Regions from separate parts of the Homo sapiens genome. Here region 2 is linked to region 1. Evidence: fine-mapped expression QTL. A gene starts in region 1. The other region holds a variant in brackets. All regions are shown on one strand. Distances are from middle to middle.

Region 1 (4,520 bases):
AGTGGGGACATAGACATGGGTGTATTAATCCATAAGGTAGGACTATTGATCAGTGGGATGAATCTATTAATCCATGGGAATAATCAGTAAGGATAAGGTCACAGACCAGGGGAGATGAGACTATTGGTAAGTGATTATGGTCACTAACTATGAGTTAGTGAAGACATGGTTACTGATTCTTGGAGGCTGGGCTATTGATCTTTGGGGATAAGACCATTGATCTATGGAGATGAAGATAGGGAGCCTCTGGTCATTGCAAAAGGGGCACCAATCCCTGGGAGTTAGGCTATTGATCTAATGGGGTGGGGCATTTTTCCATGAGGATGGGCTTATTGGTTAATGTGCTGAAGGCTACAGATTTTAGAAGACCAAATTATTGATCTTTGGGGATGAAACCATGGTTCCATAGGAATGAGGCTACTGGTCTGTGGCAATGAGGCCACTGATGCATAGGGATGGGCTATTGACCTGTGGGTTTCGGATCATTGGCCCACAGAGGTGTGTGACTATTGGGCAGTGAGGATGGGTATTGATTTTAAGGAACTGGACTATTGAATGTTGGGATGGCTTTGATCCACAGAAGTTGAGTTATTAATCCACTTGGATGGAACTGTGGATCAATGGGGCTGAGTCTAATCGGAAGTTTAGTGCAGTGAGAGCATCTGGTCAGTGGTGAAGGTGACCAGAATCAGAGATGAGATTTTTGATCTGTGGGAAGAGTTATTGGTTGCTGGGATTGGGTTGTTGATCTCTAGAGGTGAAGCTACCGACTCATGGAAACGGGGATTTCGGTGAGAGGATCTCAAAGCCCTGAGGATCCATGAGGGTATGACTGCTAATCTATGGGCTATTCCCCTACAGAGCGTTGGGTCATTTGGTGGCAGGCATGGGACTGTGGGTTACTGGGTCTGAGGATATTGTCTTTGGAGATAGTTAGTTGACTTGTAGGGGAGGGGTCGCTGGTCAGAAATGGGGTAATTTGTTTGTGAAGTTGAACTATTGATCAGTGGGAATGGAGCTGTTGGTGTTTAGGAATTAACATATTGATCTTCAGGAATGAGGTCACTGAGATGGAGCGAACAGTCCATGTGGGCTGTTAGTGGGGATGAGACTATTCTCTTTGGAGATGAGGCCATTGATTCACGGATAGGGGGCCACTAATTAGTGGGAATGGGACTAATAGTCCATAGAGGTCGAGTCATTCCCTTGCGCGGAAGAGGTAGGGAAGGGGTATTTCTTGATGGAGAGTGAAGTTGAGACATGGATAGACCATTGAATAGAAGTCCAGAGAAGACTGCAGAGTCCAGCGAATCGTCTTCGACCTCCTGTAAACGCCCGCTGCTTGGGTTAGCTTCCCTAGCACCCCCTCCTTTCTACCAGCCCTGCCCCCACGACAGCCCTCACCTGTCTGCGGGGTAACCCAGGAACAGGTAGCCGGAGGCAAAGCCCAAGATGAAGAGGATCTGCTCCAGGATCACCTGCCAGCCCAGGTCACACACCAGATCCCACTGGGGATGTGAGAAGGGTGCAGCGGGCGTGAGGCCCCGCCCTCGCCGCTCTCTGCCCGCCCCCAGACCCGCGGCCCGCCTGGCCGCCTCACCTGGCCGATGGCGTTGGTGGTGAGCACAGGAAGGCCATTATAGTCCCAATCCTTGAGGCAATGGTTGAAGTCCGGCGGGGCGAAGCCGCTGCACGAGGGGTCGGTACTGGTGGCGACACGGCTGGCGGCGCTGGCTGCTAGGGCAGCGCTGGCGACGCTGACGCCGCTGGCATTGGGAGGCTGCTCCCAGCCAGAGGCATTAGGGGGGAAGGCCCCGTAGTGGCAATGCAGCGGGGGCGCCAGCGTGAAGATGGGGTCCGAGGCCATGCCCAGAGCCACGAAGAGCACCGGCAGGCAGCAGAGGCCGAGCTGCAGCTGCTGGCCGCCGCCCAGCGCCCCCACCTGGGCGAGCAGCGCCTCAAAGCTGAGGGGGCCTGGGGGCACGGCCAGCGACAGGCTGCTGCCCAGTCCGTCGCCGCCCGCGTCTCCCTCCCCCTCCCGCTCGCGCTCCCGCTCACCCTGCAGCTGCTCCGTGGGCACCGCATCTCCGAGGGTCCCGACCTGCTGTTGGGGGGCAGGGGGTGGCAGGAGAAGGGTGAAGCGGAGGAAACCGCAGAGCAAGGGCAGGGGGCAGGTGGGAGGGAGGGCTAGGAAGGCAGTCAGGGGCGAGGGATGCGCAGGAGGAAAATGCCAGACGCTCCGCGGGGGCGGGGGTGCTGGGAGAGGATGGCGTCGCCACCTGGGGCTCGGGCACTTACTCCGTTGGAGGTGGGGGTGATCTCTACAGTGTTGTCGATTTTGCCGCCGCCCCCGCCATTGGGCTCGGGGGTCCCGGTGGCCACCCGGGGAGCCAGCTTGCCGACCGCAGGGGCCCTGCCGGCCCGCGCCGAAAGGATGCGCTGTCCTCTGGCTCAGTTGCGCGCCGGCTGCCCGGACACAGACAGCTCGAAGAGATCCCGCTCTGCAGCTCTGCAGCCGCGGGCGCCTCCTTGGTCTCTGCGATCTCTGCGCTGCTTTCCCCTCCCCTTCCTCTAGACTCTCCTCCCCTTCCCACGTCAGCAGAACCTTCGGTCCAGACTCTTCGTCAGAGAGAGGAAGGGGGGCCAGGGCCCAGGGGAGGGAGGGAAGGGGGGCTCTGTCGTCTCTTTCCTGGGTCTGCGGGCCATTGCGGTAAAAAAGAAAAAAAGCTGAAGGATAGTAGCTAGTCCAGGCAGATGCCAGAGATTCTTCCTCTGCTTCCAATCATTTGCCATCATTCATTCATTCATTCATTCACCCATTCACTAATCAGTAAAATTTAAGTGTCCACTACGTTCCAGGACTTGCACTAGACTTTAAGGATAACAGGGTGGACAAGTTCCACTTTGGAGACCTTTACTCCAGGGAGACAGACATGTAAACTGGCTATTACAGTACAACTTATGCATATGGAAGACTGTCTTGGCCCTGTATCAGCCCTAGCTTCAGTCCTCTACAAGGAGACCACTTTCTTGGGTTTCATCACTCCCATCCTGTTTGAATCTCCATTTCTCAACAGCATTTGGCACTGTTGACCCCTCTTCCTCTAAACACTCTCTTCCTTTGCTGCTGAGTCTCTCTTGCTCCCCTTTTCTCCATTGCAGAAATCGTCTTCCAGCTCATGGCATTGGTGCTGAGCATGGGCAGGCCATTATCCTCCCGGTTCTTGAGGCAATGATTGAAGTCCAGCGGGGTGACGCAACTGCAGGAGGGGTCTGTATTGGTAGTGATGAGGCTGTGGTGCTGGCTTCTAGGGCCATTCCCGTCTGTATCATTTAGACACCATGGTTCAGTGTCTGGAATCCTCACAGACTTAGTCCTAGGCCCTCCTCTCATCTCACACTGTCTCCACTTTGGGATCTTACCTATGCCCACAGCTTCAATCACCACCCATACAAACAATACAAACCTGACGCCCAGACTGACATCTCCAGCTTCCACCTCTGTTCTGAGCTCCAGACCTATGAAGCCACCTCTTATTTGACCTTCACCTTGGATGACTCACAGGGACCTCAAACTCAATATGTTCAAGACGAAATTTTTGCTTTTCCCCCATAACTTGGTTGGCTTCCACTGCTTTTTTCTGCAGCGAATGGCACCCTCAACATCGCATTGTGGCCAAATGCTCAGGCAACAGCCTTTAGAGCTTTCTCTTCCTTATCCATGTTGAATTCTTTACAAAATTCTGCCCATTTTACTTCCTATATATTCTCAGACATCCCACATCTCTCCATCTCTACCATTATTAGTCAAGCTACCTGTTGCAAAGACCACTTTAGCTCCCTAATTCCTAACTGGTGTTCAGCGTCCGCTTTGTTTATACCTCCTTATCACCCATATGTCATTTATAGTCAGATAGAATGATCTTTTCAAAATACAGATCTGATCATGTATCTTTCCTGCTAACCAGCCTTCAGTGGTGTCTCCTCACTGTCAAAGTGAATATTAAAAATCTAGATACCTCATACATGGTTCTACATGCCTGGTCACATGCTGTCTGTAGTTCCATCTCACTTCTTTCCCCAAACTCTCTGCACTCCAGCCACAGACCTTCTTCTAGTTTTCCCAGCGCCACGAGGCCTTTGAACAAGCTGGTTCCTGCACCTAAAAAGCTTCTTAGTCACATTTTTCTCATCCTTCAGCTCTCAGCCTAAACATCTTTGCTACACAGGAGTCTTCCCTAACCTCTAGAATTGCTACTCAAAGTGTGGTTCATGGACCAGCAGCATTCCTGGGAGCTTGTTAGAAATGCAGAATCCAAGCCTCACCCAGACCCTTGAATCATAATCTGTATTTTATCCAGATCTCCAGGCATAGGTATTATACATTAAAGGTAGAGACACACATCTCTAAGAGATTTGTTACCTGATAGGTACTTTATTCTCTAATCCTAGGTAAGGGCTAGAAAGCAGTGTTCTATCATTGTCAGCCGGGAAATCTTTCCCCCTTCTCTCCACTGAAC
Region 2 (4,000 bases), 23 kb after region 1:
GGCCCAGCTGCTGCCCCAGCAAAGGGCAGGACACCTCTGAGGAGCTGCTGAGGTGGAGCACTGTGCCTGTGCCTCCCCTAGAGCCTGCTAGGCCCAACCGCCACCCAGAGTCCTGTAGGGCCAGTGAAGATGGACCCCTCAACAGCAGGGCCATCTCCCCCTGGAGATATGAGTGAGTCTGCTGCCCCTCCCGAATGCCTGCCCTGTGTGTGCTGGCCAGGGTATGCGTGAGGGACCAGGGCAATTCCAGCTTACTTTCCCATTTTGATCTCAGAGGGGCTGTAAAGGTTTGGGAGTTAGACAAGGTCTGTATTTGAGTCCTAGCTCTGACTCTCATTGGATGATCTTGAGTCAATTCAAGTTTTCAAAACTCAGGGTTTTTTTTTTTTTCACCTGCAAAATGATATAATGCCCCATAGGCTAATGTGCAGATCAAATGAAATATAATGTATGTAAAAGTCTGTATTTATGTTGGTTCTCTCCTTTTCTTTTAAAACATCCCTATAATGGCCCATGTTTTTTCTGGGTAAAATATTAGGGAATAATGGCATGATACAGGCATGAAGCATCCCAATACCAATTGATACTGCCCTGGCCATGAATGGGTTAGTTATAAGCATACTAAAGGAGTGAAACCCTTAACTTTTGGGGGCAGCTGGCTGGCTGGAGCTGTGGACTGGATATCTTTGATCATGATCATGGGTACTGTATTCTTTCACTCAGTGTGCCACATAAATATTATAGTTCTCTATTTGTGCCATGATATGAAAAATATTAGGAAGTGCTGAAATATGAATGATGAAGCAAAATATTAAAAACTAGGGTCTTAGGGATTCCAGACATGTGATTTCACTTCTTCCTTCTAGTTCTGTCTTAGCATTGGCTTTGGGGGTAGATGGAGAAGTTCAGTGGTGGGGAGGGGGTCAGATCTAACTGAGATTGGATCTAGTGTGGACACTACAGGTCATGACTCTTTGGAGTGGTCTCAGAAGCTGGCTGGGTCCTGGGCCAAATCAGATGGCATGGGAGCTTCTTAGGGGAGGCGGGTGCCAGAGGTTAACTCAGCTGTCTTCCAGACCCCTTGCTGGGAGTCTGTGAACCCGAGAACCACTCAGGTGGCTTTCCCCAAAGTGTGTTCTGTGCAATGCTCATCCCATGAGCTGCTTCTCAGAAAAAAGTGATGCCAGGTAAACTTGGGAAAGACTGCTGTATCTCCTACCCCTTGGAGATTCATACTGTCATTGTACATTAAAGTCTGCAAGAAGTCTGTAGAAAGTAAACCGTTAAACTGGTGTTTCCCAAATTCATTTAAGCACCCAACAGGTGCAGGTGATTTATTAGGGAACCCACTTTGGGAAGTGATGTGCTAGCTAATTCCATTTGCCAGGGCTTGTCTGTGTGGGGAATGGTCCCACAAGCTGGAGACTGTCGCCTGCCAGACTAATGGAGTCGCAGACCTGTGGGACATCTACTTTTCAGTGTTTTTCATCTTTCTTTCTTTCTTTCTTTTTTTTTTTTTGCCATGAAATCCTTTCAGAATAAGTAAATAAGTCTTCCCATGCACTCTCAAGTATGCTTATAATATAAGCTTGCACAGCGTCTGGAAGAATGTGCAGGAAATAGTTGAGGATAGCTTCTTCTGGGGAGTGGGGCTGGTAGGGAGAGACTATTAACTTTCACTCTTTATACTCTTTAATACTTGGATGTCAGAGTGGTTTTTACTTTTGCAATAATGCTATAATAATAATAGAAACACCACCTAAAGTCCGGCCCGGTGGCTCATGCCTGTAATCCCAGCACTTTGGGAGGT[C/T]GAGGTGGGTGGATTACCTAAGGTCAGGAGTTCAAGACCAGCCTGGCCAACCATGGCCAACATCATGAAACCCCATCTCTACTAAAAATATGAAAATTAGCTGGGTATGGTGGCGGGCATCAGGAGAATCGCTCGAACCCAGGAGGTAGAGGTTGCAGTTGAGCCAAGATCGTGCCACTGCACTCCAGCTTGGGTACTCCGTCTCAAAAAAACAAAAACAAAAAATCAAAAAACAAACAAAAACACCTAAAGTGTAATCATTACAATAAGAAACCTCATGCTGAGTCAGATAGAAGCAGTGCTGGTCAATGGAGGCTAAGGCAGGAGCCTGCTCACCCTCCCCTGCCTCCCTCACGGTCCCAGGACCAGTTGGAAAGCACTCTGTCACCTGCTACCCTCATTTACAGTGGGGAAAATTTAATAAAGGAGGGAGGTGACTTGTTCAAAGTTACACAGCAAGTGGGTTCAGAACTGAGACAAGAGGCCAAGGCCCCAGACGGACCATTTCCTTCTTCTGGCACTCCCATGCCACCCCACCCTCTCTGTTTCCGGCCCATCTTTCCAAGGCCTGACAAGTGCCGCCCCCACAGGTTGGACAGAGACTTGAACCGGCTCCCCCAGGACCTGTACCACGCCCGTTGCCTGTGCCCGCACTGCGTCAGCCTACAGACAGGCTCCCACATGGACCCCCGGGGCAACTCGGAGCTGCTCTACCACAACCAGACTGTCTTCTACCGGCGGCCATGCCATGGCGAGAAGGGCACCCACAAGGGCTACTGCCTGGAGCGCAGGCTGTACCGTGTTTCCTTAGCTTGTGTGTGTGTGCGGCCCCGTGTGATGGGCTAGCCGGACCTGCTGGAGGCTGGTCCCTTTTTGGGAAACCTGGAGCCAGGTGTACAACCACTTGCCATGAAGGGCCAGGATGCCCAGATGCTTGGCCCCTGTGAAGTGCTGTCTGGAGCAGCAGGATCCCGGGACAGGATGGGGGGCTTTGGGGAAAGCCTGCACTTCTGCACATTTTGAAAAGAGCAGCTGCTGCTTAGGGCCGCCGGAAGCTGGTGTCCTGTCATTTTCTCTCAGGAAAGGTTTTCAAAGTTCTGCCCATTTCTGGAGGCCACCACTCCTGTCTCTTCCTCTTTTCCCATCCCCTGCTACCCTGGCCCAGCACAGGCACTTTCTAGATATTTCCCCCTTGCTGGAGAAGAAAGAGCCCCTGGTTTTATTTGTTTGTTTACTCATCACTCAGTGAGCATCTACTTTGGGTGCATTCTAGTGTAGTTACTAGTCTTTTGACATGGATGATTCTGAGGAGGAAGCTGTTATTGAATGTATAGAGATTTATCCAAATAAATATCTTTATTTAAAAATGGCCTAATCTGTATTTGGCATCCGTGGTGCCTGAACATCTCGCGGTCTCCCAGCCTGTCCCTTCTCCTTTCCACCATTGGCCCTCACCTCTGTCCACCCTGCCAGCTCTCTCCGCCCTCCAGAGTTTCCGCTGCACCCTCCCGTCCTCTCCCATCTCTGTCTCCCTGGCCCATCCCAAACACCAGGGTGGGGGCTAGGCCGCGCTCCCGGCATGCTGGAGAGACAGAGGCCCATTGAGGCATTGCAGCAGGCACAGAGCGCCCCCTTGTCCCCCAACAATCCGCCTTTGTCCTCCAGTCCTGGCTGCTGCAGCTTGGTCCTGGGGGTGCTGCCTGGGCTGGGCTCCAGCTCACACCCTCCCTAAAAGGAAATGGGAGAAAGGACCGGCCAAACAAGAGGGTTAAGGTTAGAGAAGGGGGACACAAATGTCTTCAGGCTTAGGTCCCTGGGGGCTCCCAGTCCTGCCCCTGTTCCTCTACTCACATCCCAGCTCCTCCCAGTTTCTTTTCGGACCTCCTCCTCTCCCCTTCCTTCTCTATTCCAGGCTGGGTTGGGCTCTAAGCAAGGGGAGGGATTAGAGCCTCCTTCCTCTCTGCCCCTCCCCATGGGTCTCTAGGGGGCTGGTGCAGGCAGCAGCAGAGGCACTCTGGGCAGCTGGGTGAGGGCCCATCTGGGCAAGGCCCCCAGCGCCTGCCTTCTCTCCCGGGGCCCTGTGGGCAAGCCTCCTGCTTCACTTTCAGGTTTCTCGAAGTGCCTTCTTGCTCCTGTCTGTTTCCCCATCCTGCCAGATTTCTGTTTCTCTTGCTGGGCTTTTGGCAGTAG

Alleles and levels. Alleles are on the strand shown, and positions count from the first base shown. SD is a standard deviation of normalised expression in the study named.
With allele T in place of C in region 2, the expression in subcutaneous fat of the gene that starts at base 2,540 in region 1 is higher (large effect, 1.4 SD a copy in TwinsUK).

Evidence for each region. PIP is the estimated chance that this variant, and not a neighbour inherited with it, causes the effect. A credible set is the group of variants that fine-mapping cannot tell apart.
Region 2: its variant is the best candidate, but not a certain one, in a credible set for the expression of SLC22A17 in subcutaneous fat (TwinsUK, PIP 0.70).

What each region holds. Positions count from the first base shown.
Region 1 is chr14:23,350,348-23,354,867 of GRCh38, forward strand. SLC22A17 (solute carrier family 22 member 17) reads right to left here and starts at 2,540. Exons shown (of 10, transcript NM_016609.7): 1 at 2,299-2,540; 2 at 1,601-2,104; 3 at 1,405-1,508. The coding sequence starts at 2,394.
Region 2 is chr14:23,373,225-23,377,224 of GRCh38, forward strand. IL25 (interleukin 25) reads left to right here. Exons shown (of 3, transcript NM_172314.2): 2 at 1-172; 3 at 2,401-3,179. The coding sequence ends at 2,656. It overlaps CMTM5 (CKLF like MARVEL transmembrane domain containing 5), which reads left to right and starts at 3,822. Exons shown (of 6, transcript NM_001288746.2): 1 at 3,822-4,000. The variant C/T (reference allele first, on the strand shown) is at 1,811.